2 separate regions of the Homo sapiens genome follow, and region 1 is linked to region 2. Evidence: fine-mapped expression QTL. A gene starts in region 2. The other region holds a variant in brackets. All regions are shown on one strand. Distances are from middle to middle.

Region 1 (15,494 bases), 33 kb after region 2:
TCTCCCTTCAGCTTTTCCCAGCAACATCCTGGCTCAGAGCACACAGCACGCACATATCATGCATATGCACATTCACATTGCACACATAGTCACACGCTAATATAGGGCTGCATGCATGCGCACCCCGCATCTGAGCCTGCTTCATATTCATGCAGGCTGAGCCAAGTTGCTTCTCTCCAGGTGGAGAATATTGGCATTGCCATCTCTGTGGCAATAGGACCACATGGTTAAAGCAAAGGCATTAAGTCTGGATCACTGGATGCCTGTCCTGGCTCTGTGATATCCTAATGTGTAACCTTGTCAAGTTACTTAAACTTCCTGCACCTAATGTTCCTGATCTGTCAAATGGAGCTGATTATATCTCATAGGATTTTGAGACTCAAATGAGAAGATCCATGGAAAGTGCTTAGAACAGTTATCAGTACCGTGGAAATTCACAATACATGTTAACTGTTAGTAGTAGTATCCAGGAGGGACTGAGGGTCTCCTGGGAATACCTTGATAATGTTCCTTTAGTCATCTCTGGCCATAACTATTCAAATGGTTACAAACAATCCTGATTGTATTTTTCTTCCACTTATGAAGCCTGTATCAATTGCCCAGATGAAATCAGGACATGCCATTTTCACAGCCTTACCTTTATCTTGATAATGATTGTTCATCCTTTGCTGTTTAAAAGCCAAGAAAACTGGTAAGCGTAGGCCTAAGTTGTTTAGAGAACTCTGGGCTGGGTCCTGGAGCTCACACATCATCCCTTTGGAATCTGTTCTAGACCCTCTCCCCAGATCAACATCAGCACCCTGATCTGTGTGTCTTGGGATCCACCTTATTCTTTCTGGAAATGAAGGCAATGTCTGCCACCTCCCATCCCCCAGATCTCAAAGGTCACCAGCAACTCCCATTTCACCTCACGTGCTCCCAGGACTCAAAGTGGGATTTCTCGGGCCTAAAGAGAAAAATGTACTTGGCAGAGCTCTGAGCTCTAGGACAATCTCTCCCCACGTCTCCTTCTTCAGTCTACTCCAACCAAACCTAATTCCATTCGTGGCCACATTTGAGAAAGGAATGCCACAGCTTGAGGCTCATGGACCTCAATATGAAGACAATAGCTGCAGATGAAGCTGGAGAGTTCTGCTTCTCTACCACCCTCAGCCCCAACAGAAGCCTTCTTTGTTCCTTTTCTTACCCTGAACAAAACAAGAAATCCTTTTTTGCTGCCATTAGTAATTTCCTAAGTCTCACTCCATTGGGGTCCTCTCCCTTCCTGCTCCCTTTTCTGAAGCCATCTCTTTGGTTCAGCTTCAGGTGTTTGCCCTGTCTCTGATTTTGGTATATTCTCTATATATTCTTTATTGTAACTATTAGAGAGTATTATAATCTCTTTTATAATCTTTCCTATGTTAGTTACCTATTGCTACTTACATTTAGCAGCTTAAAACAACACATTTATAGTTGTACAGTTTCTATGGGTCAGGAATCCAGGATCAATTTAGCTGCAGTCTGGCTCAGGTCCCTCACATGGCTGCAGTGAAGGTGTTGGCTGGGGTTGCAGTCATCTCAAGGCTTCACCAGGGGAGGATCCATGTCTAGCTCATTCACGTGGCTTTTGGCTGGAGCTGATGCTCCTTGCCATGTGGGCTTCTCCATGGGGCGACTCCCAACATGGCAACTGGCTTCTCTTAGAGTGAGTGAACTGAGAGCGTGCACCCTAAACAGAGCCGCGTCTATTTATAACCTAATTGTGGAAGTGACAACCCACTACTTCTGCTGATACTCATAATCAGAGGGAAGTGATTACAGTGTGATGGGAGGCGAGGATCACTGGGGACCATCGTAGAGGCTGCCTACCACATTTCCCACCTGGCTTCTCCATGTGCTCTTGTGCCTAACACAGTGCCCTCAGTAGATGGTTAGCACTCAGTAGATATTTGCTGAAAGAATGAATGCGAGCATCAGAGGACACTCTGCAGAGTTTATATAATTCTGTATTGTTCTCTCGGGCTACTATCCCCCCTACCCCTGGCTTTTCCCGCATTTTTCTTCTTTCTTGGAATCATTTGCATTTAAAATTTAAACTTATTTTATCCTTGAATAGCACATTTTCTCATAGGAGCCTATTTATCTCCTCCCCCCACTTTTTGAGATTTGCCTTCCAAAAATGGGGACATGCTTGGCATATATCTCATGTGGATAACCCCTATGGTGAGCACCTATGGATAACCCCTATGAATAACACCTATGGATAACCCCTATGGTGAGCACAAGCTCAGAAATGACTGGGCTACTTTCTTTATATAACTGGTCAGAAGGAACCTGTCTTCATCTAACCTGTCTTCATCTAACTGGTCAGAAGAAGCCATTCCCCATGTCACATCCTCCCAAGTGTTCACACCACGTGCGCTTACCTTCCCTCTTACGGCTCTCAGCCTCCGGAGCTTCCTGGGTTTTGTATGGGTCTGCCTTCCCGGTAAACAATGAATGACCCCTTACAGAGTAGGAACCGTTTAGCAAACATTCAATGAGCACTCACTGAAGCACGCATTATGTACTAGCACTGGCCTGGGGACCATGGAGACAAACGAGTAACTCATGGAACCTCCAGCATGTGGATGGAACAGGTGCTTGGGAATGCTTGCTCCTTCCGGGAGATCAAATTGTCAGCAAGTCTACCTAAACTAATTCTCAGATACTGTAATGGCAGAATTTCTAGGAATGGCTCCCAAGACTCCACACTCACTGGAACCCGTAAATATGATACTCCCCTGACTGTGCTATGCTATGTTGTATGGTACAGTTGACCTTAGAGAGGGGAGATTATCTGAGGGAGTCTAATCTAATCTCTTGAGTCACCAACAGCAAAGAACTCTCTTAGGCTGGTGGCAGAAGGCGAAGTCAGAGAGATTTGGAGCATAAGAAGGACTTGATGTGCTGCTGCTGGTTTGAAAAAGAGAGGGCCATATAAGAAGGAATGCCAGTAGTCTTAAAGTGCTGAGAGACAGCCAGCCAGTGAGGAATAGGGACCTCAGCCCTATGACCACAAGGACAGTAATCTGCCCACAAAGTGAACGAGTTTGGAAGCAGATTCTTGCAATATGTCTCATGCCCACCCCCAACACCTTGATTTCAGTCTTGTGAGATCTTGAAATTAGAATTCAGCCAAGCCCTCCCAGACTCCTGACCTACAGAAATGTGAGCTAATAAATGGGCATTTTTTAAGTGGACAATTCAGTAGTTTTTTAAATATAGCCATAAAATTGTACAACCATCATTTCTATATAATTCCAGAACATTTTCATTGCCTCTGCCCCCAAACAAAGCCCATACTTATTAAGTAATCACTCTACATTCCCCCAGCCCCAGAAATCACTAATCTACTTTCTGTCTCTATGGATTTGCCTATTCTGGATATTTCACATAAATGGCATTGTACAATATGTGGCTTTTTGTGTCTGAATTCTTTTGCTTAGCACGTTTTCAAGGTTCATCCAAGTTGTAGCATAGATCAGTGCTTCATTTCTTTTTATGATTGAATAACATTCCATTGTATGGATATACTACATTATATTTCTCCATTCATCAGTTAACGGACATTTGGTTTGGGCTGTTTCTGCTTTTTGGCTATTATGCATAAAGCTGCTATGAATATTTGTGAGAAGTTTTTGAGTAGTCACACATCTTCAATTCCCTTGGGTATATACCCAGGAGTGGAATTGCTGGGTCATATGGTAACTCTATGTCCAACTTTTTGAGGAAGGGTCAGACTGTTTTCCAAAGTGACTTCACTGGTTTAAGCTCCCACCAGGAGTGTACAGTGGGAATACATGCACACCAACACTTGCTATATCTGTCCTTTTTATTAGAACTATGCCAGTGGGTATAAAGTAGAATCACATCATGGTTTTGATTTGCATTTCCTTAATTACAATTGATGTTTTGTAGGTATTATTTTAGGCCACCAAATTTGTGGTAGTGTGTTACAAAGCAATAGAAAACTAATCTAAGTGCCTTCTTTTACCCAGGTGGTAAAAAAGGAAATGGAGCAAAAGTTGATTAAAAAAAAAAATAAGCCATTTGAGTTGAGTGGCCAAAGAAGGCAATAAATGACATTCTCATAAAGCAGGTCTGGACTGCTGCGAGTGTGAGGACAGACATCTAAAGTTGAGGCACAGGGCTAAGTCAAGAACAAGGGCAGTTTACTCAGTTATGAAGGTATGAACAGCACAGCAGACATGGAGTGAACCAGATGAATATTGGTAATAAGTTGCTTCTGCTGTTTTGCTAGTTTCCATTTGATCAGCAACAAGTATGGTTATATTAAAGGTGCCTCAAGGTCTGAGATATGTTTGATATTCAGCCACAAGTCCCTTGTAGCAGGACATCCAGATGGATGAAGACCCCATCACTTCTTAAAATACATTTCTGGGCAAGACCCAGGACATGTTTCAATATCTCAAACTCCACTTCTTTGATCTGGCCAGGGGAGCTTTAGAGGACATTCCTCTCCACTTTACAACTTTGATTGATTGATTCCATTCGTTCATGAATGGGCCAAGTTCTGTTCTTGGCCCTGAGGACACAGCAGTGAACAGATCCCATGAGGCTTATGTTTTAGGTGGGAGAGTGGTCAAGAAGCATAAAGTTAATACAAAAGTGAATTATATACTTGCAGAGTGTTGGTGTTATGCAATTTAAAAAGAAAAGAAAAAGCAAACCAGGGTAAAGGAGCTCAGGATCCAGAAGGTGGGAAGGTTCAACTGCAGTGAAAGTGTGGTCAGGGAAGGCCTGCTGAGATTTGAGCAGACTTGAAGACAGTGAGGATTTGGTAAGGTAGATATCTGGTAGAAGAACGTTCCTGGCAGAGAGAAAAGTTACAACAGAGGTCCTAAGGCACTATCATGTCTGTTACGCTTGAGACACAGCGAGGAGGTTGGTGCACCTGGAGCAGAGCAAGGAGGAGAGTAGAGGAGATGAGGTCCGAGTGTTAGTAGAGCCAGACCATGCAGAGCCTTGCAGTCATTGCCAGGACCTTGGCTTTTAGGTTGAGTGAAATAGGGGCTTTGGAGGCTTTGAGCAAAGAGTTACGAACCCTAGCTTAGATTTTTAAAAGGATTCTTCTAGCTGCTGTGCTGAGAATAGATGGGGTGGGGGTGTGAGGTTGGGGCAAGGGCAGAGGCAAGAGGGCTTGTAGAGAGGGGTTGTACTGCACTAACCCAGCTACAAGACAACCATTGCTTGGTTGACCATGGTAACAGGGGTAGGAGTAGGAAGTAGTCAGCTTTTCGATATAGTATTTGAAAGCAGAGCTAATGGAATCTCATGACAGAGTAGATGTGTTAGGAGTAGAGAGGGGAGACAAAGAAAAGATTAAGACATAGTGCCAAAGTTTTTGCCTGAGCCACATGAATGAGGGAGTTACCCATAAGCTGAGATGGGAAAGGCTGTATATATAGTGGGTTTGTGGGTGATCAGGAATTTAGTTTTGGATAGGTTAAATTTGAGAGGTCTATTGGATATCCAAGTGATTGATACCACATAGGCTGATAGATACGAGTTTGGAGTTGATTGAGAGATCTGGCCTGAGGATAGCCATTTGACAGTCATCAGCATATAAATGGCATTTAAAGCAAACCTGAAACACAATCCTTGGTGCTTTTGACATATAGGATTGTTTCCCTTCCCCTGAACAAATTCATTTTCTTTGTGCCCATGAAAATTTCTATTTTGTTTCTGAGGGGCGAGTCTTATCCTACCACATCTTGGTGAAGTTGGAAAGGTGCATTGATTTTGCTGACTTAAAATCTCAAGCCCCTGGGATTTATTATTCTACTCCGATCTCTGTCACTACATTATTCATCTGCCTCTTCTCCAGGTGACGTCTCTGAAAAACAGGGCAGCATCCCCACATTGCCCTTCTTTCTGGGTCATACCTGTGGATGCTATGCCAGTGTTATTTGGCCATCTTTCTACCTCTTCCTGCATTTTCAGTTTGTTGATAGTTCTGAGTCAGATCGGAAAGCTCTTGGTGTGGGCCCCAGCATACCGTCTGTATAGGGAGTGTTAGATGGTGTTTTTAATTCAGCAAGTCATAGGATTTTAGGCCAGTCCTGTAGACCATGCTCTCAGGGGCAGGAGGTGAGGCTAGCTGCCAAAGATGCCTCTACTGCCCCAGCCCCTCAACACAGGGATTTGGGATGTGCCCCGGGATGAGGTGTTCCTGACTCTTGTCAGTTGACTATTCTCTGCCCATTTCAGGAATAGAGACACAACGGTCTGGGGTGGGTGCGGCATGTGAAACAGACGGGATTGGAAGTCAGGGCGTAATAAGAAACTGACATCCGGGTCCCCTGTCTTGTGTCACTCTGGAGTAGAGATTTGGGGTCTCCTAGAGTCACAGTGAAAGTGATTGAGCTGGAACACCCGTAGGAGCTTGGCCTGGTTCCTCTCTACAAGCCCCCTGCCCTTTCCCTCCTCTGGGTTCTTGCTTCCCTCTTCCCGCGGGCCTGGTTGTCCTGGCCTCCTCCTCCCCTGCTTCAGGAGGAGAGGGGCCA[A/T]TTCAGGGCCCTGTGACTCAGGCGCGGGTTGGGGAGGATGTTTTGGATGCCGCTCTGCTGACGCTGGTGCCCTCTGTTCTTACATCCTCCTTAATTTACTGCCTGAGGAGGGGGCCAGGGCTCTGGAGAGGGGATTAGATGGTCCACACTGATCTGAGGCAACAGCTGCTGGGCTGGCGGCCGAGGAGTGAGCAGTGAGCAGGCGGTGGGGGAGGCTCATGCCTCCATCAGGGCCGGAAGGGAACTAGGCAGGCATCCGGATGGTGCCCTTAGGTAAGGGTGGCTCTGGAGGAGGCTGCTCTTGGTCTGAGGGATAGGGCTACAAGGCCTGTCTGGTCAATAAGGTCAAATCCAGGTGTCACAGGAAGAAGGCCTAGAGGGCCAACTGGTCAACCATCTTGCCAGCTTTCTGGAGAATATTGGGAAGTGTTTTCTTTAGCCTCCTGAAATCCAGAAAGGAGAATATTGGCTCTGGGGCCCTGGTTCAAAGGGAAGTCTTGCCAAGCTCTAAGCTGTCATGTAGTTGCATGAGAGGCCCCCTAAAGTCAAAGCTGTTACACACCAGTTGGAGTGATCCCTTCCACCATGATGGCACTCTTCTCTCATTGACTCTCCACTCACAAGGCAGAAGGCAGACTAGACAGTGGCATTTCCATTTGACAGATGGGGCAACTGAGACCCACAGAAGGTGAGTGCCTTGTCTCAGGTCACACTTGGTGTTGGTAGAATGGATATGATTACAGCCCAATGCTCCTAACTAAATTGCTCTGCTTCTTGAATAGCAGTGCAACACATTGATATTTGGCACTGGAGGCCAGCATCTCTTCTTCCTTCTAGTTCATAATTCCACGTGATAGTTTTGTCTAACAGAAAATGGCCCAAACATGGGAGCCATAAGCTTGAACTCTTTGAATCAATTAATGTCCCCTTTTGGAGACTTGGTTTTCCCGTCTGTATTATGGATATCTTGAATAGCACTATGACTGTCCTCAAAAGCATAGCAGTCTTGTCTTAATCACTCAAAGGACAGGAAAGACACTGGGGATCATTAAAAATATTGCAGTGAAGATTTGGGCTCTGGAGTCAAAATATCTAGGATCAAATAAAATCTCTGCCACTTACTAACTTTATTTTACCTAGTGAGTTTCTTCCCCTCTTTGAGCTCAATTACGTCATTTTCTGCAGACAAGAGGTAATAACACCTATCACACGTGGCTGCTATGAGGATTAAAAGACAATGAATGCTAAAGGCCTAGCATTGTTCTTGGGGCATAGTAAAGCTGAGTGAATTATAGAAAGACTAGTGGTAATAGTACTTCTTGCTTATTGATACATGGAGCCACTGAGATTGAGGCAAGAACTCCTGGGCTAGTGGACGGTTTAGAGCAATGCTTCTCACTCCTGCTGACCAATCAGGATCATTGCATTGGAGATGGATGCTTAACAAGGTTCCTAGGCGATCCTCAGGCTCTCCTGAGGTTGGTAATCACTATCATAGAGGACCTGCTTTGATGGTGAGATAATTACTGTATCAGTTGTTTGTAGGTAAACAGGTGCTCAGACATTTAATAGTTTAAACATTTTCCCTGATTGGCACTTTCACTACTAATTAACTCCTAAAGAGCTCTTCCTTTTCTGGGTCATGAGCAGGAATTCCCCACTGGGGGTTCCCAATTAATGAAGTTTGCCCAGCTTGAGGGCCTCTGGGAAGCAGGCAGGACTAATTATTCTCTACCACCCTCCCGCACTGAAAAAAACCCTGGCCAAATCCTCTCCCTATCCTTCATCAATCTTGTCCTGGCCTCCAGCTGGCTTGCATTAGCTCTGGTTTTCCAGCCCCCAGGGCTGCGGCTGTAGTGGAGGGATTGAGCCAGTCCAGGCTGGATGGATCTGTCACCTGATCCTGGGTCTGTGCCGCAGCCAGTCCTGGAATCTGGGGCAACGTGATCCTGCCCTGCGGGAGCCCCTAGCCAGGCCAGGGACGCCATGGTGGGGCTCAGAACATCCTGGCTGTCCAGGGACCTCTGTTTAAGCCCGCAAGGATAACATCCGCAGACTCTCAGAGCTCCTCCTGTCTAAGCCCCTCACCTTAAAGAAAAGAAAACTGGAGCCTAGGTTGGTGAGGCACCTGCCTAAGGTCACATGCTTGTTCACAGCAGAGCCCCGGTCTCTCTCCTCCTACTGCAGGACTCTTTTCCTGGCTCCTCCTGGAGAAGTTTGTCTGCAGACCTATTGTCTGCATGATGGGATCAGATATGGAGGCTCCTGCTCAACCCCAGACACCCAAAGTAGAGGAGGTCAGGGGAAGGAGGGTTTTGGACTAATGCACATGATCCTTTGACCCAGATTAAATAAGTCGAATTTCAGGTCATTTAAAGGAGAAATTTGGAGAGTAGCAAGAATGGAAATATGGAAACAATTGAAATAAGGGTGATAAGTTTTTAAAATATCTTTTATAGATACTGTCATCTTTTAGTACAATTCAAGAACATAGATGGTTTGGCTGTGACACATGGAGACACTCTCCTCTGGAATCTGAGTTTGCTTTTTACCATGTCCTGCTTGCTTCACCCAGCAGTATGGAAACCCAGACCATGAAACAAACCTTTATAGAGGAAAGTTTCATTTTGTTCTTCAGTTGTTGAGGGAAAGGTCAAGATAGTTCTCCAAAGACTGATCTTTTCCACATCATTCCATTTTTTAATGCCTGGATATTTTTGCATCTCACTCAGACCTAATTCTCCTGTACCTGCTAAATAGTTTGAGCCAAATCTCTAGGACAAGAAATGGTTCTGTTAGAGTTCTGAGGGCAAGGACAGTGGGGGCCATATCGCTATCTGGTCTTGGTCTTAAAAGTACTGAGATGCCAAGCAGCTCTTAACTAGAGAAGGCGAAATGGCCACCTTCCCTTAGGGGCAGCCTGGAGCTCAGAGCTGGCTTCTGGCATGAGTCTTTGAGGGTGTGAAAATGTGCCTGCCCTTTAGTAAGAGTGGTCATTTGCTGAGAAAGGACCTACTATATCCCAAGGGCTTTGCAGACAATTATTTTGTAAGGTTAAGTATTTTAATCCCTATTACACACTTTAGGAAATGGAGGCTTAGGGCAGTCAGGTGATATGTCTAAGGCTACTAACCTACCAAGTGGCAGAGCCAGGATTTGAACCCAAGTTTATAGGATTCAAAAGTCAGTAGGTATTTCTTCAATGCCTTTTGGGTAGAAGTGTGGAATACCATATATCCCAGTTTGGTTGAGATACACTGGATCCCGTTTCTTGCTCCCTTTGAGTTTATTTCCCTATTGTTTGCTCTCAGAGTTCAGAAAATTGTTTAGGAAGGTTCCGTTGAGTGTGTGTAGCCTCTGGTGTTGCACCACAAACCCCTGGCCTGCCCCTGATTTCAGCCACAGCAGTAGTGGACAGTTCTGTGCAAGCTTGGACTCAGTCTCAATGTCCTACCGCAAGTAGGAGCCAGAGTCTTTCCAGATTCTGATCTGAGGTTTCTTTCACGACACAGAAGCTTGCTTACAACCTGCAAATGCTGCCTAGAGGCACAAGGCAGTTAACTTCCCTAGAAACAATTTTCAACCAGTAAGGGGAGATGGTGGATAAAGACTCCGGGTATCACCTGTCAGGTGCACACTGCAGGAGACGTTCTATAAACTTTTCAGAGATTCCAGAAGAATTGAGCCCCTACACCTATAGACATGAGTCCAAGGAAACACCCTCATTTTAGATTTTCCTACTTCCCTATCTCACTCTTGCTACTCCTATCTATCTGTGTCCTCAGATCACCTTCCAAGTAGATAACATTCAACAAGTCCTTGTCTCAGGTTCTGCCTTCTGGGCAACCCAAACCAAGATGGTTTGCCTGTGCCAGGAGGGCTGTTTGAATTGGGGAGCAGCACCATGAGGGGTGGAGGGAGTGACACCCGGTGACAGCAGTAGGAAAAAACTTTACACAAGGTAAATTCTAAGGGTTGTAGCAGCTGGGGCCTCCTATCCTTCTCTGGAGATTCTCCCCATATCAAACTCCTGGAGCTCCTGAAGTTTCTTTCCAAGAGGGAGGCATCGCATGGTTTGTGGGGGCCTGAAGACATGTGATTTCTTGACATTTGTGGCAGTGGGTGGGATCCTCACTCAATATGGTGATTTAGGAGGGGGTTAGAAATGTCCCTAGGCCCTTGGTGATGGCTTCCCTGGACTGCCAGTTGACTAGTGGGGTTGTCTCAAGCAGTGACTATCAGCAAGGCTGTCCCTGGGATGACTGACACCTGACCGCGATTTCAATTAGTCAGTTTCATTGGTCACAGAGCCTGGATCTTGCAGGACACGGGGCAGGAGGGCTGTTTTACCTGGTAGTGTCTTTGGACCTGATATCCAGCTTCATCCTAAGCCTCTGTATAAAAACAAAGCGGGGGAATTTAACCAGGCAGAAAAATCAATTTAAATGCTTACAGAGAAACAGTAAGGCCCAACACTGCCGCCTCATTTTCACGAGGTGAGTCACTCAAACCGTTGACCTCATGGCTGATCTATGAGCAAAGGCGTGCTGGCAGTTGCTGCTGGCACAGGAATGGCTTCAGACCTGTTTCCTGGAACCCTGGCGCCAGGCAGAGCTCAGAGTGGCCTTTTGCCATTAGGTCAGATCACCTCTCCGAGGAGCAAGTTCCCAACACAGAGATGCAGGCTTTCCTGTGACTCTGTGACTGGTCAGTTTCACTGAATAATCCCCTTTTCTCAGTTATTGCCTGGCCGGTTTAATCACCCATCTGTCACAATATGCAGCTCTCATTGGTCAGGTTCACCATATGCTCTCCAAAGCCCTTGTTCTATGATTGGTAAATTCCACCATCCAGTCAGCTGAAATGAACCTCTGCTTGGTCAGCTCTCATAAACCGTCCATCCAGTTTCTAGGCTAGTTCCTGCTATGATCATCTGAATTTATGCTGCTCTCATAGACCTAATGTGAGCATTCCTATTTCATTCCTTTTCCCTGTCCTGTAGGTTTAGAAACAAAGGTTTGGAGGTGGAAAAGACCTGGGTTTGAATCCCAGCCCAGCCACTTATTAGTTTCATAATTGTAGACAAACTATTTAACTTTTCTGTGCTCCAATTCTAATAGCTAAGAGCCCTGGAGTCAGATGGGTTCAAATCACAGATTTATTATTTGCTGACTGTGTGATTTCAGATGGGTTACTTAACTTCTCTGAGCCTCACTGTTTTTGGCTATAAAATAGGGATATTAGTAGAACATACCTCAAGGACTTGTTGTGAGGATGAAATGCCATAATTACTGTAAAGTATTTGGCACACAATAAGTTCTCAATAAATGTTAACTCTTTTTCTTGTGTATTTAGAAGGAAGGAAACATGAAGAACAATAAAGACCCAGCCTTATCCTCAGGTAGCTAAATATTCTGTTCCAAAGGTCAGCCAATGTGCAGACCTGGGTGATGGTCAGGACAACCCCAGCAACAGGTCCCACCTGGGCTTGTCCCTTACAAGGTGCAGGCAGACACTCCAGGTGTGAGCCAGAGGGCCAGGAGGGGCAGCAGGATGTATAAGAACATTGCGTTAAGATCAGTGACTCTGAAAGACCCACATGAGTCAGAGAGGGCAATACTATTGGCTATTAATTATGCTAAAGCACTCAATAATTAGCATGAAAGCATTAGCAAAGAAACAAACACCCACTTACGTAGGATTCAGATACAGGATCTGGATTCAAACACATGACTGCAGAATCAGGATGTATAACAATTATTACAACGAAGGAGGTAAGATCTAAGGTTTCTGTTTTTTCCGTTCTGTTTTGTTTTGTTTTGTTTTGTTTTTTTGAGACCAAGTCTTGTTTTGTCACCAGGCTGGAGAGCAATGGCACAATCTCGGCTCACTGCAATCACCACCTCCTGGGTTCAAGCAATTCCCCTATCTCAGCCTCCTGAGTAGCTGGGAATACAGGCATGTGCCACCACTCTGGGCTAATTTTTTGGTTTTTTTAGTAGAGACAGGGTTTCACCATATTGGCCAGGGTGGTCTTGATCTCCTGACCTCGTGATCTGCTGGCCTCGGCCTCCCAAAGTGCCGGGATTACAGGCATGAGTTCTAAGGAATCTTAAAGTGCATCTTTGCACTGCTTTATTAATATGATTATCTGCCAGTTGCCCAATAACACTTAATTACCATCCTACTAGTCTTTAATTGGTTAAGCAGTGACAAGACCAAAATATATCATACAGATAAAGATAAAAGCATCAGTGGGTTTACAAAAAGGGCACAAGAAATTGTTATATTGGTTAAATTCAGCTTTTGGAATTCAGACGATTTTGACAAAGAATGTTTCTTTTGCACTTATTACTCTAAAATCTTTGGATTGGACTATAATAATATAGACTATTTTTATGTGCAAATAATATTTTATGTGCCTATAATCATATAGCCTGGATTATTTTTATGTGCAAAAATTATGTGTGTGTGTGTGTGTGTGTGTGTATATATATATATATATATATATATATATATATATATATATATTCAGTATATTGTGAGGCGCTGTGAAAACTGGTTCTCGCCTGCCCTTTGCCAGAAGAATCTGAATGTTTGTATGAGTATTAGCAAGGATGAATGCTGTAGTGGTTGCTAGCCCTTTGAGACTTGGCTGTTTGTTACCTGAAAGTATATAGAAAACTTTGTCAGAATTATATGGCAGGGATCTTCTATAACTTAAAAAAAAAAACTTCCTGATACATGTTTCTATTCTAAGTGGTTTGGGTTTATACCCTACAGCATTTCTTTTTCTTTTTTTCTTTTTTTATTTTTGAGACAGAGTCTTACTCTGTCACCCAGGCCGAAGTGCAGTGGTACAATCTCAGCTCATTGCAGCCTCTGCCTCCTGGGTTCAAGAGATTCCTTATGCCTCAGCCTCCCGAGTGGCTGAGATTATAGGCAGATGCCATCATGCCTGGCTAATCTTTTTTTGTATTTTTAGTAGAGATGGGTTTCACCATGTTGGCCAGGCTGGTCTCAAACTCCTGTCCTCAGGTGATCCACCTGCCTTGGCCTCCCAAAGTGCTGGGATTACAGGTGTGAGCCACTGCTCCCAGCTTCAGCCCCACAGCATTTCTCCCATCGACTTTCAGGCTGTTGGGCTGAAGTAGGAAAGGAGAAAGAGATGATGTAAGAGAAGTCCCTTTAGACAGAAGGGGAAGCAGAGAGCTCTTCCTGAAAGTATAAAATAATATCAGGATGCTGCCTTAGTCCAGGGATACAGGGGAGAGGAGAGAGGATGGATGCCCTGATAAAACCACACACTTCCAAGTTTTAGGAAATGCTACAAGAGTTTGTGTTGTGGTTGCATTTTCTCCCTGCCCCACTCATATGCTGCACGCTGTGTCTAGACTGATAGCCAGAAGCAGGCTTCACATGCTTTTAAAGGGATCCAGAAGCATCTTCATGGCTGCGGCAAGCAGAAAAGTTGACGCGAATTAAGAATCGGCAGGCCTGTCTAAAGATTGCCATGGTGTGGAAGTCCAAGGTCCCCCATGGCTCGGAAGTCGGAAGACTCCCATTACAAGAGGCTGGGAATAGGCAGCCCAAAGCTGGGGTTTAGGTGGGAGCTGTAGCTGAGTTTCACAGGGTCAGTAGCTTGAGCAGGAGCCGAACAGCAAAATGACAGGGCTATCTTTCAGAATGTAATCACCGAGTCATTTGCCGGTACTGAAGGCACAGACTGAGATTGGTCAGCAACGGATAAGGGAAGGAGGAGGTTCACTTCTAGAGACCAGGTGGACTGATCTATCCCTTTCCCCCAGGTGAGCAGAAGCCATATGGCTTAGACCGCAGGTCCTCCTCCATGCCATTGTGCTATGGAGCACCCCCTTTTCTTGTCAGTGCCTCTATAGCATTCAAGGGGAAGAAAGAGGAAGGAGTGAGTGGGGAGTACCTTGAAGAACTGAAGTACTCACCAAAAGAGCATGCATTTACTCCAAAGCAATTTTAACTTGAAGAGTTGGAGTGTACAATTCTTCCTCCACCTTCAGTTCATTTGGAGACTTTAAAACAAGTTGAAAACATATAGAGAACAATAACATATTTTCTAGCATAGTTGAGTTGTAATGCATAAGTTGTAATCCAGTTACAAAATGTACAGTGGACAGCATGCTTGCCCTAAAGGCTGTGTAACAACCAACTGTTTTAAATCACATTTCCCACATCGTAAAACTCTCTTGTTTGAAAGGATAGTACTTTAAATTTTTTTTGTCATATGCTCCAAAGCATAGATGGTTCTCTGATCTGCAGATTCTTTGGGGGAAAGGATTATAGTCCATCATTTTTCATCCTGTAATTGATACAGCAACTGCCCATTGAGACACAAGATTTCAGAGGCCAAATACAGCTACTGGCTTTGTTTGCATTTCACCAATCACATTAAAAGATGGGTGAAAAATCCAGTGTGGCAGACACACCAAAGGAATAAAAACAATTCTCAAGTAACCCTCCAGAATTATGATCAATGCTGCTCTGTGCAAAATCATAAAAAAGGCAAATGGAAAAAATTAAAATTGAATTTGCCAAGATAGTTATTTTGAAATATTACAACCAGAGTGCCTGCATTTATGTTGTGTGTTCTGCAGTTTCAACAATTCCTAACACTTTTGATTTTGGCAGAATGTTCTTTCTCGAAATTAAAAATAAAGACCCTTTGGCCAGACACGGTGGCTCACGCCTGTAATCCCAGAACTTTGGGAGGCTGAGGTGTGTGGATAACCTAAGGGCAGAAGTTCCAGACCAGCCTGACCAATATGATGAAACCCTGCCTCTATTGAAAAATACAAAAATTAGCCAGGCATGTTGGCGTGTGCCTGTAGTCCCAGCTACTTGGTAGGCTGAAGCAGGAGAATTGCTTGAACCCGGGAGGCAGAGGTTGTGCCACTGCACTCCAGCTTGGGC
Region 2 (15,494 bases):
AGCTGCTTTGGGGAAAAGTTTGACAGTTCCTCAAAACTTTAAACATAGAGCTGTGATATAGCTAGCAATTCTGCTTTTAGATACATACCCAAGAAAATTGAAAGCACACATTTACACAGACACTTGTACTTGAATGTTCACAGCAGCATTATTCCTAATAGCTAAGAAGTAGAAATAACCCACGTGACCAACAGATGAATGAATTAAAAAAGTGTGATATATCCGTATAATACACTATTATTCAGCATAAAAAGGAATGAAGTATGCTACACGCTGTAAGATAGATGAACTGGCTGGGTGCGGTGGCTCACACCTGTAATCCCAGCACTTTCGGAGGCCGAGGTGGGGGGATCACCTGAGGTCAGGAGTTCAAGACCAGCCTGGCCAACATAGTGAAACCCCATCTCTACTAAAAATACAAAAATTAGGCGAGCGTGGTGGTGGGTGCCTGTAATCCCAGTTACTTGGGAGGCTGAGGCAGAAGAATTGCTTGAACCCAGGAGGTAAAGGTTGCAGTGAGCTGAGATCACGCCACTGTACTCCAGCCTGGGTGACAGAGGGAGACTGTCTCAAAAAAAAAAAAAAAAAAGATAGATGAAGCTTGAAAACATGATGTTGGTGTTAATTGTTGAGGTCTAGTTACAGTGGCATATTATGAATTTTATACATGATTCCTTTCATATGAAATTTCCCAAATACGCAAATCCATAGAGTCAGAAAGTAGGTTAGTGGTTGCCAGGGGCAAGCAGGAGGAAGGGGATAGTGAAGAGTGACAGCTAATGCCTATGGGTTTCTTTTGGGGGTGATGAACATGTTTTGAGATTAGACAGTCGTGATGGTTGCATAGCCTTGTGCATATAGTACAAACCACTGAACTATGCATTTTAAAAAGGTGAATTTTATGGTTGTGAGTTATATCTTAATTTAAAAATTGGGAAAAGTAAAAGAAAGAAGGACCAGTTAACCAGGAGTCTATAATTGAGTTGCCTGTGCTGAGAATAAGCTTCTCAGTTTGTTGTGGTCCCGGTTTCCTTATCTGTAAGAGATCTGCTTCATAATCTCTTCTTTCTTTGAAATGCTTTAAGCAAATTATGAAATAATTTCAAAACTGAGACATACTTTTTAAATTTACTAATTTATTCCACAGAGTAAATGCCAAAGTCCAGGTGGGTTAAGTCCCATTCCCAAGATCTTAGAGCTGGTCAATGACACAGCCAGGCCTAGATCCCAGGGAATTATGTAGCCATTGGCATACCATAGGACTCACTTCCCCCTGCTACTGGGAAAGTTCTACATGAATTAAAACCCACTGTCACGTGTTCTCTGAAAAAAATAAGTTACCAACTACACAAAAATGACCCTGTGCAATATAAAAACAAATATTGCACAGCCTCTCATCGAATGTTTTTAAATAGGAGTGACTTGTGTGCAGTGCGAGTGTTTCAAATGCCTTATGAGAGAAAAAAAAAAACGAAGGTAGGACCAACTTGTTTTTTCATCATTATCACATCATCATCTTTGCCTTTATCTTCCTCCTCGTCTCCTCATTCTATCTACCTTCCACCTCTTGCTCCTTTTTCTTGTCTTTTTCAGTCTTGCCTACCTCTTTCCACCCGCATCCGGCTGCACATTCTTTGATTGCTTCTTCATGTGACAATGGTTTTATAATATCATTTTCTATACAGAGAATAGAGAGATTATTCAGTCTTTCCTTCAACATGGTTGATCAAAACTTGTTTTGTACCATTGATAATTTAAGGAAATTTCAGGCTCACAAGTCTATTGGAAATGTCATGTACATTTTTAGAATTGATGTCAAATTTGAGGAAACCTCAATCAAGTTTCTTTCATCTGTGGGCTGTAAAAACTCAAGGCATTTTGAGTTTTCTTGTGTGGTGACTAATTTTAAATATTTTTTAATTGACAAGTTTCTTTAATAATTGTGTTGATGATGTTGAGGTCTTGTTATAGTGGCATATTATGAATTTTATGCTATCTTTGTGGATGCCAGTAGTTTGTAACAGATCAGCAAAAAATTTAAATCTTTTCCCAATGTGTTCATGTAATTTGCCATTATTCACTGGTGGGATTATTAAACCATGCAAGAGTCTTTTCCATAAATCTATTAGAAAATTTTCTTCTTCTTTTAATAAACCACTTTTTGGCATGATCTAGATAAATTTTGTGGTTCTAATTATCTTCTCAATGTCAGAATCATTTAAATTTATATCATTGTTCATCATTATTGCTTATGTTTTATATTTCATTTATTTAAAATATATTCCACTAAACCCAAATGAAATTTATACCTTTAGATAGGACTGATCCAAACATCCCCATGAGTGCTACCCAATACAAGGGTCAGAACAGAAAGAGACAATGGTCATAACCAATTGTTAAAAGTGATTTACTTTGGCAAATTAAAAAAGTAGCTAGACCATATAGACATATTTCTAGGGTTTCCCCCAGGACCTTAGAAGGGGCTCATACGAGAGAGGGGAACTGAAGCTTAAACTTTATTGTCTTCACAGTCTATCAGCCTCTGATGGTGTGCTCTGGGTACACATGTGCTTTTGTATGAGCACATATGTGTAAAGACATATACATATGTCTCTGTGGAGAGCATGGCCCTGGTGCTTCCTCAGATCCAATGCAGGTAAAATGGCCCCATGAGCAAAGGATGTTCCATCTACACTGCAAGTGAAGTCAGGCTCAGCCAGTTGTCCCCCCTTGAGGGGACTGAGGTAAGGGACAGGCTAGGAGGGGACCTCAAACCCTATCCTCGATGGTGTGATCCAGTCTCCAGCTGTTCCCTTCCCTCTTGACTTTTCTCACTTCCTCTCTTCTGACATCCTCTGCAGAAGACACAGAGCAAGGCAGCCAAGAGTGCAGTCTCTGGAGCCCTCTGCCTGGGTTCAGATCCTGGCTCATGACCTATGCTGATCTAACTAGACTTCTTCCCTGGGAATTTTCTCCCCACTGCCCCGACAAAGATGGAGTCTTGCTCTACTGCCCAGAGCTGGAGTGCAATGGCATGATCTCAGCTCACTGCAGCCTCTGCCTCCTGGGTTCAAGCAATTCTCCTGCCTCAGCCTCCTGAGTAGCTGGGATTATAGGCGTGCACCACCACACCCAGCTAGTTTTTGTATTTTTAGCAGAGACGGGGTTTTATCATGTTGGCCAGGCTGGTCTCGAACTCCTGACCTTGTGATCTGCCTGCCTCAGCCTCCCAAAGTGCTGGGATTACAGGCATGAGCCACCATGCCAAGGCTGGGAATTTTCTAACTGGGTTTAATGGTAAGATCCATGGTAACCCATGAGTTTCTGGAGAAAACCAATATGGACTAGGAGAGAGTGAAGCCAAGCAGAGACATGAAGTGGACAGCCTAGAAGTGTGAGAGGAGCTCTAGCTCCCAAGGTGCATAGATGCCGTGGTGCTTATAGCTCTACTTCCAGATATGAGCTGCCCCGTGAACTTCCAACACACCCTCTTGTGGGGTTTAGGCTAGTTTGAATAAGGTTTCTGTCACGAAGTATTCTACACTAGATGTGTCACCATACCTGCTTCTCCTCCTGAGGTCCCTATCTGTGTAATGGCACCACCACTTACTCAGAAGCAAATCACGGCCTCAAGTCAGAAGCAAACCAGAGCCTGGAGTCATCCAAGGCTCCTCCCTTCTCTACACTTTCTAGGGCCTACACGCACAAGGCACTGTGAAGTTATGCAGGTTGTCACTACAGAAGTGCACCCAGCTGAGGAGGTGAGTGGGGGCTGAAGTCCAGCCTGCTCTCTGCCTGCCTAGTCATGATCCCTGGTGCAGGGCAATGCCCCAGGAGAGAAGGGGTACTTTTTTCTAATTACACACAGACCCCCTCTAGGATACTGGGACCCTCTTCATGTATAGAATTGCTTCCCTTGGTGCAGAACTTCTGCCTCCTCTGTCGACCTGCTTGCCTTCTCACTCCGCATTACCACCTCTGCTTACACCTGTTGCCTTTCCTTACGGTGTTTCTCATCGTTTATAACATTGTATTTATTCACTTGGTTCTTCATCTCACGGTTACTTCCCCAGTGGATTTTAAGCTGTAGGAAGGTGGAGACTGTGCCTTCAATGTTCTCTGCTGTACCCTCAACACTGACACATTATTTGGCCCAAGCCAATTCAGGATATGTCATACCTCCTCTAAGCAACCCCAGTGGCTTCCTGAAAGATCTCCCTGTCTCAAGTCTTGTTCTCTCCTACCTATTCTGCTAGCCCAAACTGGCCTTTCTAAAATACAGAATTATTTGTATCCTTCCCCTGTTTAAATTCCTGTGTGGCTCCCTACTGCCCTCGAGATAAAGTCCAGATGAGGTCCATTGTGGTCCTGCCTCTGCCATTCCATCTTCCTCTGGCCCCTCCCCATGGGCACCTGCAGTTCCACAAAGGCAGTTTTCTTTCTCTCACCCCTGGATCTTTGCACCTGCTGTTTCCTCAGCTTGTAGCCCCTTTCTTTGGCCCCTCTTTCCTGACCAACTCCTTCAAGATTCTCATTAAAGTTTACCTGTTTGTCTATATCTCCCCCAGAATAGTTAGGGAACCTTCCCCTTTGCTTCTATGGCGTTCCCCTGCTACATGCACCTCCAGTACAGTACTTAATTCAACAGGATGTAACCAGCTGCTAAAAGGTTCCATCCTAGTCAAATGTTTGTGTGCTTCCCAAGGGCGGGAACTGCATCCAACAGTCTCTGTTTTCACCCAGCATAAGACCTGGCATCTGTGGAATCAATGAATTCATGAATGGACCCCAGGGGGTCTCAAGGGTATAAAGAATCCCAAGGGACATGTGGGGAAGTGGCCAGAAGACAAGTGGAGGATCATTCGTAACACAACAGCTCTGGGCAGCTTCCTAGGCACCCTGTGTTGGGGAGAGCAGAGAATGGATCCTCAGACAGGTAATGAGGATATTCGGATATTCCTTCTGGCATCACATCTTGCCTGCATTCCTGAGGGCCCCCTACTTGGCAAACAAAACCCTTGAAAGTGGGCCTGTAGGGTTTTCAGGAACAACATATATGGGGTGGGATGTAGGAGGTCCTGAGGTCCTCATGGCACGCGTGTGTTGGGGGTGGGGAGGTGGTAAGTGAGTGGGGAAGAACCCTTGCCAGACCATCCCTCAGGGGCCTTGGACCCAGGGGAGGGCACAGGTACCTGTGTGTGTGTGTGTGCGTGTGTGTGTGTGTGCATTGTGAGTACATTGTCTACTCTTGTTTCTTAAGACAGAGCTCAAATGACAACTCTTCCGGGAAGCCCTCCCCAACACTCAGGCTAAATAAATGCCCCCTCCTCTGCTCTCAGAGAGTTTATAGCCTGATGAAGAGTACCTATGCCATCTGTGATGATGCTGGCCCACATGCCGCTCTGCTCACAGGATCCGGGCTCCTGTTGTCTTATGGAATCTGATAGTGTCGGGATGCTCTAGGTGCTGGGTAGAGGTGTCTGTGCCTGTCTGGCCTTCTATGCTATCTCTTTGCAGTTACACCTATTACTAATGGGCTGTAAGTGCCAGAGAGCTTACAGCACATGTCTACACTCATTTAGATCTTCCTCGGAATGCTGTGGGCACCCTATCACATCCTCTATACCCAACGAGGCCCCCAAGTGATGCCTGGGCCACAACCTTCCCGTGGTTCTTCTGGTTATCACACCTGGGTTCACTCACTTTATATGGAGGGGATGATTCTCAGCCTTGAATGAACTTCAGAATCACTTGGGGAGCTTTTGAAAAAAAATACCAATACCTGGCCCTGGGTATATGGGGCAGAAACATTAAATCAGAATATCTAGGGGGCGAGCTCAGACATGGGTTTAAAAAATACTCATATCAACCTGTGTACCCTTCCATAAGAGCCACGGACGTGTGTAGTAATGTAGTCAAGGTCAGAGGAACTTCCTCACGTACTGGAGAAATTTGCACCCCTCCTTCCTTCCCCAGGCAGCAGGCTTCCTCCTTGCAATCCGCCTGCCGCCTACAGGCGTCGCTGAGGGACAGCTGGCCCAGTTTGCGGATTTTCCTCCGGATCCCACACCCATGTCCAGGGAAAGCCGGAGCCACGGCGGTATAAATTAGCGCCTTTATTTTGATCACCTGAGCGAGCGCCCGCGGCTCGCCCGCCTGCGGTATAAACGTACAAATTCCCTGTAGCACCACACACCATGCCTCAGAGATAAATACAGCCCCAGGGGCTCCTGCTCTGGCAAAGCAACTCTTATTTACAGGAATAGATTACAAAAGTATTACAAAAAGTGGTCCTGAACCGGGAAACGGGTTGGGGGTGGGTTACGGTTACACCTGCTACATTTGGGACCGGAGTGCACTGGGTCTCACGCCCCCCCAAATAACCGGTGCATCCCGGGGCAGGGCTTAGGTCTGCGAGGGTCTCACCCCCATGGGGGAGGGCGCGAGAAAGCTGAACCTAGCCCCTCAAGGTTCAGCTCTGGCCCACCGAGGAACACGGAGCGGCCATCGCAATGGGTCTCCGAGAAGGGTGCTGCGTGGAAAAAACCGCGCTGTGTCCTTGCCCTGTGGGGCGGGGGCGGAAACTTCAGTTCTCCCGCCTCTCCTACCTCAAGAGAGGTCGCTTTTAAAGCGCTGTTGGGAGGGGGGCATTTAAGTTCAATCTTTTGGGCGCGAGGGACCCTAGGGGCACCATCCCTCGGGCGGGTGGGCGGCCACCATCCCCTCAGAGCACCTGGTATATCGGGTTGGGGTTCGCACCCGCAGGGCACTGCGGGGCGGCGTCCGGTGACTGGGTGGGGTCGCCGCTGCTCTCTCCCTCGCTGGGGGCGGCAGCCTCTTGCCTGCGCGGAGGCGACTCAGAAGGCACGTCCGCCAGCAGGAGGGCGGGCGCCGCAGGGCTCTCGGTGGAGATGCGCTCCACGATGCTGGACAGGCAGTCTAGGCTCGACACCGCCGCACTCTTCCCGGGCCTGGGTTCTGCGCGGGGAGGGCTCGGTTAGTAAGCAGGGGTGGGGCCGCGACAAGCCTCCCACCCCCGGGCCCAGTACTTTGAGACAGATTGGAAACTGAGGACTTTAGTTAGAGTCCGGGACAATCCAAAAGACAGGGAGCTACTTGCTTAGTATTTCATCTCCTGCACCACTTCCCAGGACATAGGCGTGTGTGAGTGGGGGTGGGAGCGTCCTAGATAGAGGCCAGGACAGCTCCATGAAGGAGGAGGAGCGAGCAGGGAGAGGCCCGGAATACCCACCGCTGGGCGCCTCGTTGTAGTAGGCGCCTTCGTAGCAGTTCCGCCGCCGGGCGCCGCTCGGGGGGCCGCTGTAGTCCATCTGCAAACAGCAAGGGCGACTGAGTCAGGCCCGCGGGACGGCTCGAGGCCCGAACACCAATTCCTGTAGCCGCCCCCTCCCTAACTCTAGCCTAAGGCTCTAGTTCCGGGCCCAGACCTGTCCTGGTTGGGGGGGTAATTACGGGTGGGTAGGAGATGAGGTCTGCAACATGCAGGGCCAAACCAAGGGCGGACAGTCACCAAGGGGCGCAAATTTACATTTTGGAAGTAGGGATAAGTAGAGAAAAAGATCTTCACGTTCGCGCTGCAGTGTTCTAATAGCGCCCCCAATGGGGCAGCTCGAACGCTTGCCCGCACACTTCCAAAACAGGCTACCCCAGTGACAGCTGCCCAGGACAAGGGGGTCCTCTCTCTCGGGAAGGATCCTGGCCCAAACCTCCCGCAAGGCCAGCTCCCCGCCCTCGGAAACGCGTCCCTGATATCCCGAGCGCCGCCCTAACTTCCTCACTTCCTGGGGTCCCGGCCTTACCATGCCGTCGGAGCAGTTGGAGCGCGGGCTGGACGCGTCGGAGTCGCCGCTGTAGTGCTCGCCGCCGCGGCCCGGGGGCAGCGGGCCCGGCGCATAGAAGGCGGCTGCGGCGCCAGGGGGCGCGGCGTCCTGGTCGCGCAGCAGAGCCTGCAGGCCCTCGATATAGCGGATGGCGTTGCGCAGGATCTCCACCTTGGGCAACCGCTGGTTTGGATTGCTCGACGTGCAGCGCTTGAGTGTCTCAAAGGCCTCATTTACTTTGCTCAGGCGGCGCCGCTCGCGCATGGTGGCGGCCTTGCGGCGGTCGGCGTTGGTGGTCTTGCGCTTGCACGCCTTGCAGGCCCACAGTAGGCAGCGGCCCGCCTGGTGGTGCCCGCTGGGCGCGCGCACATGCTCGTCCTCACGTGCGCCCGGGGCCGGGTGCACCGCCGCGGGGAAGTGCGAGTGCTCTTCGGGTTTCAGGAGCGCGCCCACGTGCATCAGGCGCGGGTCCAGGTCTTCGAAGAAGCGCAGGTCCGGGGAGTCGAAACACGGGTCGTCATAGAAGTCGTCCGTTGTGGCAAAGGAGCAGAGAGAGCCGTCGGGGGCCGTCAGGTCTACGTCGCGGAGCGGTGGCGACAGTAGCTCCATATCCTGGCGGTGGCGCGGCACGGTCCTGGCTTCGCCCAACCCAAGCGGCAGAGAGTGGCCGGAACTTTCTGCCGCTCGGGAGCCCCGGCTGTAGATAGCAAAGTGCTGGCAGTCTGAATGCCCACCCACTGTCCCCCACCCCTCCCTCTCCTGTCCGGCCTGATTTGTGGTTAAGGAAAGCGGCGGCAGCGCCCCAGGGCTTCCTCACCCCTAGCTTCTCGCCAGGCGCCCTGGGCTATTTATCCGTAGTAGCCTAAACGCCCCGGAGCCCAGGCGGGCAGCTGGGGGAGGGGGAGTCCGAGGCCAATAGGAACACTGCGGGGCGGGGCTTGGGGGGGTCCCCGGGGTGGCCGCAGGGGCCCGCAGACTGGCCAGCCAGCCCGCCCCTCCACACTGGCGTGCGCGCTAGGTCCCCTACCGGGCAGGGAGGGAGGGAGCGACCGGCAGCCCTAGGCGGCTGCACTTGGCTCTCCGGCACGCCCTTTCCAAACCTCTCCAACACCCGACTGCTGTATCCGCGGGAAACGCTGGCTGCGCGCGCTCACCTCTGAGCTGACTTTCAATACTCCTCTGTCCCCTGATTTGTGGGGGACCCATGGGTAGAGCGGCTGTAGAAATCAGGTCGTGAGAGATTTGGAGAGAGGCAAGGCATTGGGGGCACAGAGCTGAGGAGTGAGACCGTGAAAGAGGGACCGAAAGAGGCTGAGAGACACGCAGAAAGCAGAAAGCTTAGAGCGTCAGGGGCAGAGAAACGCACGAGTGCAACAACAGGCGGAGAGACCCCGAGAGTTGAAGTGGGCGAGCCCGAGACAAACGGGTCGTAGAGGCTCTGATATTCCGCCAGTCCCCGACCTGGGAGTTGCTCAGCAGGTCGTGGGCCCAGTCCTTCTTCCCTAGACGCTTAGAAACCCAGCTATGGTTGTACAGGAATCGGAGATTGCTGCTAAAGCTTCGCGCCAATCTCTCCAAACTCGGATCCTGCCCAGGTTAGGAATCCCCTCCATCTAAATCTGCACGTTTCCACAGCAGGGGTGTCCAGTGCCATGCCTGGGGTCTAGGCTGAGCTGCCTCTTCAGCTGGGAAGAAAACCCTTCTGCTCGGGGCTTGGCTCCGCCTCACTCGCGGTGCTGAGTCAAGGAAAGTGCATTTCGCCAAGGTGTCAAACTTCAGGACCTGGCCTGAGAACCTGACCTCATCTCACCTGAAGTCTCCGAGAGTGCGGTTTGCAGACCAGTTGAGTGCAGACTCCAGAGTTTCCCAACTGTGTGATTTTGTGGAAGTCATGTCTCCTTCCTGAGCCTCAGTTTCCAGTTATAGATTTGGGGATGACAGTAATTTCTTGGAGTAATTGTGGTGGGGATGACAGTCTGAAGAGACCAAGGATATGGAAGCCCTCAGGCGGTGATGTAGGGTTATTCGAGCAAGGGGCTTTCAGAGTTGGATGCTGTGTCCCGCAGGCTTACAACTCATCTGTGGTACCATGCCCTGACGGAGTGCCACGAGTCTCCAGGCCTTAGCTGTGTCTCTTTCCTGCAGCCTCACTGGAAAGGCTGGAAACAGGAGGAGGCAACCACCCCATGGGATGTGGGATATCTGGCTCCCATACAAGCCTCAGCATACCGGCCACCCCCATGGGGGTCTCTCAGCCTCTTCCTGAATCTGCAGTTCACACAGTCCTCTCAGCACTCTGGCTAGGAATCTCCGTTGGCCATACATCCCTGCCTGGATCTCCCCTCCTGGAAACCAGAAATTTAAGCAGGAGTGATCTTTGTGCCTTTCCCACTAACTTCTGGAAGGCATTCTAGCTGGCCGTTCTGGGCCCTAAGAAGTCCTCCCTTCCCACAAAACTCAGAGGGCTCTGTTGGGGTCCTAACTTCTTCACTTCTCTGCTGCTGGTAGTGGTGCTGAAGGTCTCCCTTCATGAAGTACTCACCTCGCTTTACTCCATAGGGCCCACCTGTATTTGTTCATTCAGTAAAGTCTACATCATGGAGCAGCAGTGACAGTAACTCTAAATCCTGGCAGAGGCAGCAAAGTCCTGGCCTCACCCCACCCAAGCTGCAGGGGGTCACCCGGAAATCCACATATTGTTAGGTATCCATTATGTGGCAGGTACCAGTCCAAGTGTGGGGCTAGAGCAATGAACAAAACCAAGACTCTGCTTACATGGCACTTACATTGTCAATGTAAGCAGGGTGATAGACAATGAACAAATAAGCAAGGAAGTATGTGATGCCAGGAGGTTAGAAGCCTTATGAAGAAAAAGCAAGGCAGGGAGACACAGTGATGAAGATTATGGAGTGATTAGAGAAGGCCTCTCTGCTACATTTAAGCAGAGACCTGAATGAAGAGAATTGGAAGCAGATACCTGGAGATATGTAGGGCCAGATAGAGGGATAAGCATGTGCAAAAGTCCTGAGGCAGGACCATGTTTGGCAGATTCAAAGTATGGCAAGGAGGCTCATATGTCTGCAGCAGGGTGAGTAAAAGAGATAGTGGGAAATGGGGTGAGAGAGAGAGAAACAGGATTATATTCTGAGATGGCTTGAGCCATCTCACTGGAGGGCTTGAGCGGAAGAGAAGAATATCACTATCTGATTTACATTTTAACAGGAGCATGCTGGTTACTGGAGGGAAAGGGCAGAAGGAGGGAGACCAATTAGGAGGCTATTGCAATAATCCCAGTGAGTGGAGCTGGTGAAAAGTGGTGGTTGAATTCTAGATATATGTTTTCAAGATGGAGCTAGCAGTATTTACTCACGATTGCATGTGGGAAGTGAGATAAGCAAGGAGCTAAGGATGACTCCTGCAAGAATGGAGTTGAGAAGACTAGGTTTGTGGGTGGTAGATTAAGTGTCCAGGTTTGGGCAAAATTTGAAATGCATATCGGATATCCAGATGGAAGTGTGGATTAGGCAGGGGGATTTTTAAGGCTGGAGTTCCCAAGGAGAGGTCTGAGTATGAGGAAGAGCTGTCCATTCTACCTCTAAGACCTGTCTCAAGTCAGTCCATCCCTAGTGTCACCATCCTGGACTAAGCTGTCACACTGCTGCTCTGGATGACCACAATAACCTGGCTGCCCTCCTCACTTCCTCTGTAGCCTCAGTATAATCCATTCGTTACATAGCAGCCTGAGTAGACCTTTACAATGTAAATGGGATTATGCCATCCTCCTGCTTCAAACTCCCCAGCAGCTTCTTGCATTTAGAGTAAAATCTCATCTCCATCCCCTGGCCTATCAGGCCCTGCATGAGCTAGCCTCAGCCTGTGTCTCTTACTACACCTGGAGGCACCATCCGTTTTGATTGCTCTACTCCAGTTAGCCTGACCTCCTTTCTTGTCTTCTAACACTCTGAACAGGATCCTGCCTTGGAGCCTTGTCCTTGCTGCTCTAAACTCATAGCATTATCCCCTGGGCTTTTCCCAAGATTGACTGCATTTTATATAATAGATCTTCTTGCCTCCTTGGGACATCACTGACCATTCCCTCTAAGATAACTGCCCCCCATACTCTGGTTCACACCACCCTGTTAATTTCCTTCCAGGCACTGCCACTCTTTATAATCTTCTTCATTAGTTTGTTCATGACTGACTTAGCCCCATGAAGGCAAAGATGTTTTGTTCACAATGACATTTCCAAAAACCATCACAGTGGCAGTCACACAGTAGGCACCTGATAAATGTCCAGTGAATGAATGAGTGGCCTCACGCCCTTTGCATCTCTATGCATATATTTGAATGTCTTGAACTGTGACATTAATGAAGATGGTTGAATTTCTTCAAAACTGGGAAGTCACATACATGATTAGACATCCATGTTCTATTACACTTGCTCTTCCCAGGAAAGGCTCAGACCCCATCTGCCTGGGGCATGTTCTCTTGAACTGGGCATTATACATGGCATGCTGCAATATTGTAGTGGTATACTATAGAGAGATTTGGCATCTCGATGTGTCTTCTTATTGTTTTTTCACTATACTCACAATGAGGAATGTAAGTAATTGTTGTATTGATGATTTAGAAACAAATACTTCTTCCTACTTGCTCAAGGCTCAGCAGAAAGCCAGGTGCATAGTAGGCACTCAATAAATATTTCTTGGGCAAATGAATGAATGAGTCTACTTAATTAAAGAGTACTCTGAGATTCCCAGGTGAGCTATTCAAACCACTTATCTATGCAAATCTAGATTTTCCCCAAATCTGAATAAGCAAGAAACTACAAAATAAATTGGATGCTGAGACAAGTGAATACAACTTTGCTTTTTGTGCTTTGTGTTTCTAAAAACTTCCTCAGGGCTGTCATCAAGTTGCCTTTACAATAAATAAGTAAATGTTATATGTTTGAACTTACCAAACACATTTAATATTTTATCACTTATGGCTTATAAATCTAAACTGCTTTGACAGTTTTAAGCTTGATTTGCAGCTACATCTTCTTCCATAATTAGGAAGCGCTGTTTTAAAGCACACAGACATTCTAGTGGTAAAATGCCATTTTTATATTAGGCTTTCAAGTGGGATTTTTGTTTGCTACCAGGCTTCCGTTGCTCAAAAAAAGATTGGAACTCACTGAACTCGGTGACCATTTCAGACCTCTCCATGCCTGGCATCCACACCTGCCTGGAATCACCCTTCTGGTTGCGTCTCCTCTTTGGAGAGAGGTTTGTCAACACCATCATCTCTTCCCTGCTGCCCACAGAGCAGGGAGAAGTATGTCCAACCTGGGACATGTTGTCCTTTTAGTCCCAGTGCTGGGTTGGGGGCGGAGGGAAAAAGGATACCAAGTTTGGAAGCTGAAAACATTCAAACTCTTATACTGCAGAGTCTAGTCAAGGGTGCCCTTTGTCCACAGGTGCTGGACTTGTTCTGTGAGGGGCCACTAGCAATGGGCTGAGGGACTTTGAGGGGATCCCCTGGCAGCCCCCTCACCCCTCAACGCAGGTCTGACCAGAATGGTAGGCTCTGTGCTTGGGGGCATGTGCACACCTCGCCCTGGGCCTGGCTTCTGCTGTCTTCATGATGAGGGGCTCATTTGGTGGGGAGTGGGGAGGGAGTGCTGCCTGGGCTGCCCCTTCTCCCTCTGCCCTTTCCAGTCCTCCCCTCTCAGCTCCCTTGGCTGCTCTGCCCAGGGGCTATAAATGGAGAGCTGGCCTCTGGAAAGGAATGTGGGCCTGGCTGGGCCCCCACAGTGTTGTGCCCTCAGGGAGCGGCCCTGGGGCTCCCGGCAGCCTTTATATATATAGCCTCTGGAAACCCAATCCAGCCTGCACCTGCCCCAGTCTTCACGCACCCTGCCCCTGCCCAGGCTGGGCCTGTGGCTCTGCACTGGGGCTGACACAGGCTGCGTATCTGGCCGGGAGGTGGGGGGCGCCAAAGGGCCAGAAGGTAAAAGCATGAGTGGGCCTGGTGGGGCAGGGCCAGCTCCAGGTCCCCTCTCTGTCCCCAGCCTTTCCCTTCCTGTTCCTGGGTCCAACCTGAGTGCCTCCCTCTGTCCCCTGACAAACTTGCTCCCTGGGAAAGCCAAAATCCACCCACCACATGGGTATAGATCCTTCTCTGGGCCCAGTCTGGGTTGGTCAGGAGGGACTGTGATATTGCCAGGATATAGACATGGTCCCAGATTAGGGACAGGGTCCCAGAGATTCCTCACAGAAGGCCACATTTCCCCGTTTGGGGGTACTCTCCAGCCTCCCACAGACAAGCAGGGCTTAGGAGTCTGGCAGCTGAGCTGGGAGTTGAAGAACAGGAGTCCACACTGTGGAGGGAGGGAACAGGAAGACAACCAACAGCATGTGCCCTTCCCACCCAGTGTGCAGGGGGTGGGGGCAGGGCACTATTGGGGTGGTGGGGATATTCCCACTCTCAGTTGTCCAGTCTATGATTCATTCACTTATACAACAAACATTTATTCAGGTGCTGGGAATGTGATGGAGAATGAAACAGACCATGTTCCTTGTTCCTGTGGAACTGACATGCGGGCAGGGCAGGGCAGACAATAAGCAATACACATAATAATAAATAAATTATATAGATGTTAGAAGGCGATACACGCAGAAAAATATTACAAGCAGAACAAGATGAGCAGGATTGAGGTGCCAGGTTGGGGTCGGCTGTAGTGTTAAACAGAGTGGTCAGGTTGGCAAGGTAACATTTGAGCAAAGAGTTAAAAGAGGCTTGGGAGTTAGCCATGTGGCATCTGGGGAAGAATGCTCCCGGCAGAGAGAACAAAATAATTATTGAGCACCTTCTATGGGACAATCGCTTCTGCTAGGAGCAGAGGATTCTGTGGGTACAGACAGGCATGGCTCCTGGAGCTGTAGGGGCTGGGGGGTGTGGGGGTGGCACGAGATAGAGTTTGGGCATGGGGTTTGATGGGCAATCTGTTACTTCTTCTTTTTTAAAAAATTGAAACAGAATCTCGCTCTGTCGCCCAGGCTGGAGTGCAGTGGCGCGATCTCAGCTCACTGCAACCTTTGCTGCCGGGGTTCAAGCGATTCTCGTGCCTCAGCCTCCTGAGTAGCTGGGACAACAGGCGCGAGCCACCATGTCTGGCTATTTTTTGTGTGTTTTTAGTAGAGATGGGGTTTCACCATGTTGGCCAGGCTGTTCTCGAATTCCTGACCTCAGGTGATCTACCTGCCTCAGCCTCCCAAAGTGCTGGGATTACAGGCATGAGCCACCCGCACCTGGCCAATTTGTTACTTCTAATGAAAGAATATCTTACAAACCAAGAGATTCTTGAAGAACTAGGCATAATAGGCTAGAGCTGTTTATTCCCCTCTTCAATAGGTTTATAAAAACTCCCTCCAAAACTGACATAGTACTTAAATTTAAGAGGGAATTCTCTAGATGTGATTTTTAAATTTAATTATAACTTCATCTAGAACTAAGCTTTAGCCCAATTCAGGATGTGAGATGAGGGTGGGCTGCTACCCAGGGAAGAGGCTAAAGGGCATGGGATGTGACCCATGTGAGCTTGGTGTTATGGGGGGACCCTCCCTGCAGCCCGCCCAGCTCTTTCCCCCACGAGGCCCCACATGCCAT

Alleles and levels. Positions count from the first base shown, and alleles are read on the strand shown. Sizes are in standard deviations (SD) of each study's normalised expression.
For the expression in skeletal muscle of the gene that starts at base 8,662 in region 2, T is the low allele of the variant in region 1 and A is the other (small effect, 0.14 SD a copy in GTEx).

Evidence for each region. PIP is the estimated chance that this variant, and not a neighbour inherited with it, causes the effect.
Region 1: its variant is fine-mapped to the expression of MYOD1 in skeletal muscle (GTEx, PIP 0.98).

Annotation. Positions count from the first base shown.
Region 1 is chr11:17,679,275-17,694,768 of GRCh38, reverse strand. No RefSeq gene overlaps it. Among named protein-coding and RNA genes, the nearest start is that of LINC02729, 9.9 kb to the left of the region's middle. The variant A/T (reference allele first, on the strand shown) is at 6,549.
Region 2 is chr11:17,712,739-17,728,232 of GRCh38, reverse strand. It overlaps MYOD1 (myogenic differentiation 1), which reads right to left and starts at 8,662. Exons shown (of 3, transcript NM_002478.5): 1 at 7,821-8,662; 2 at 7,253-7,331; 3 at 6,097-6,978. The coding sequence starts at 8,450. The coding sequence ends at 6,725. RefSeq lists enhancers at 6,690-7,201, 7,202-7,713, 13,081-13,581.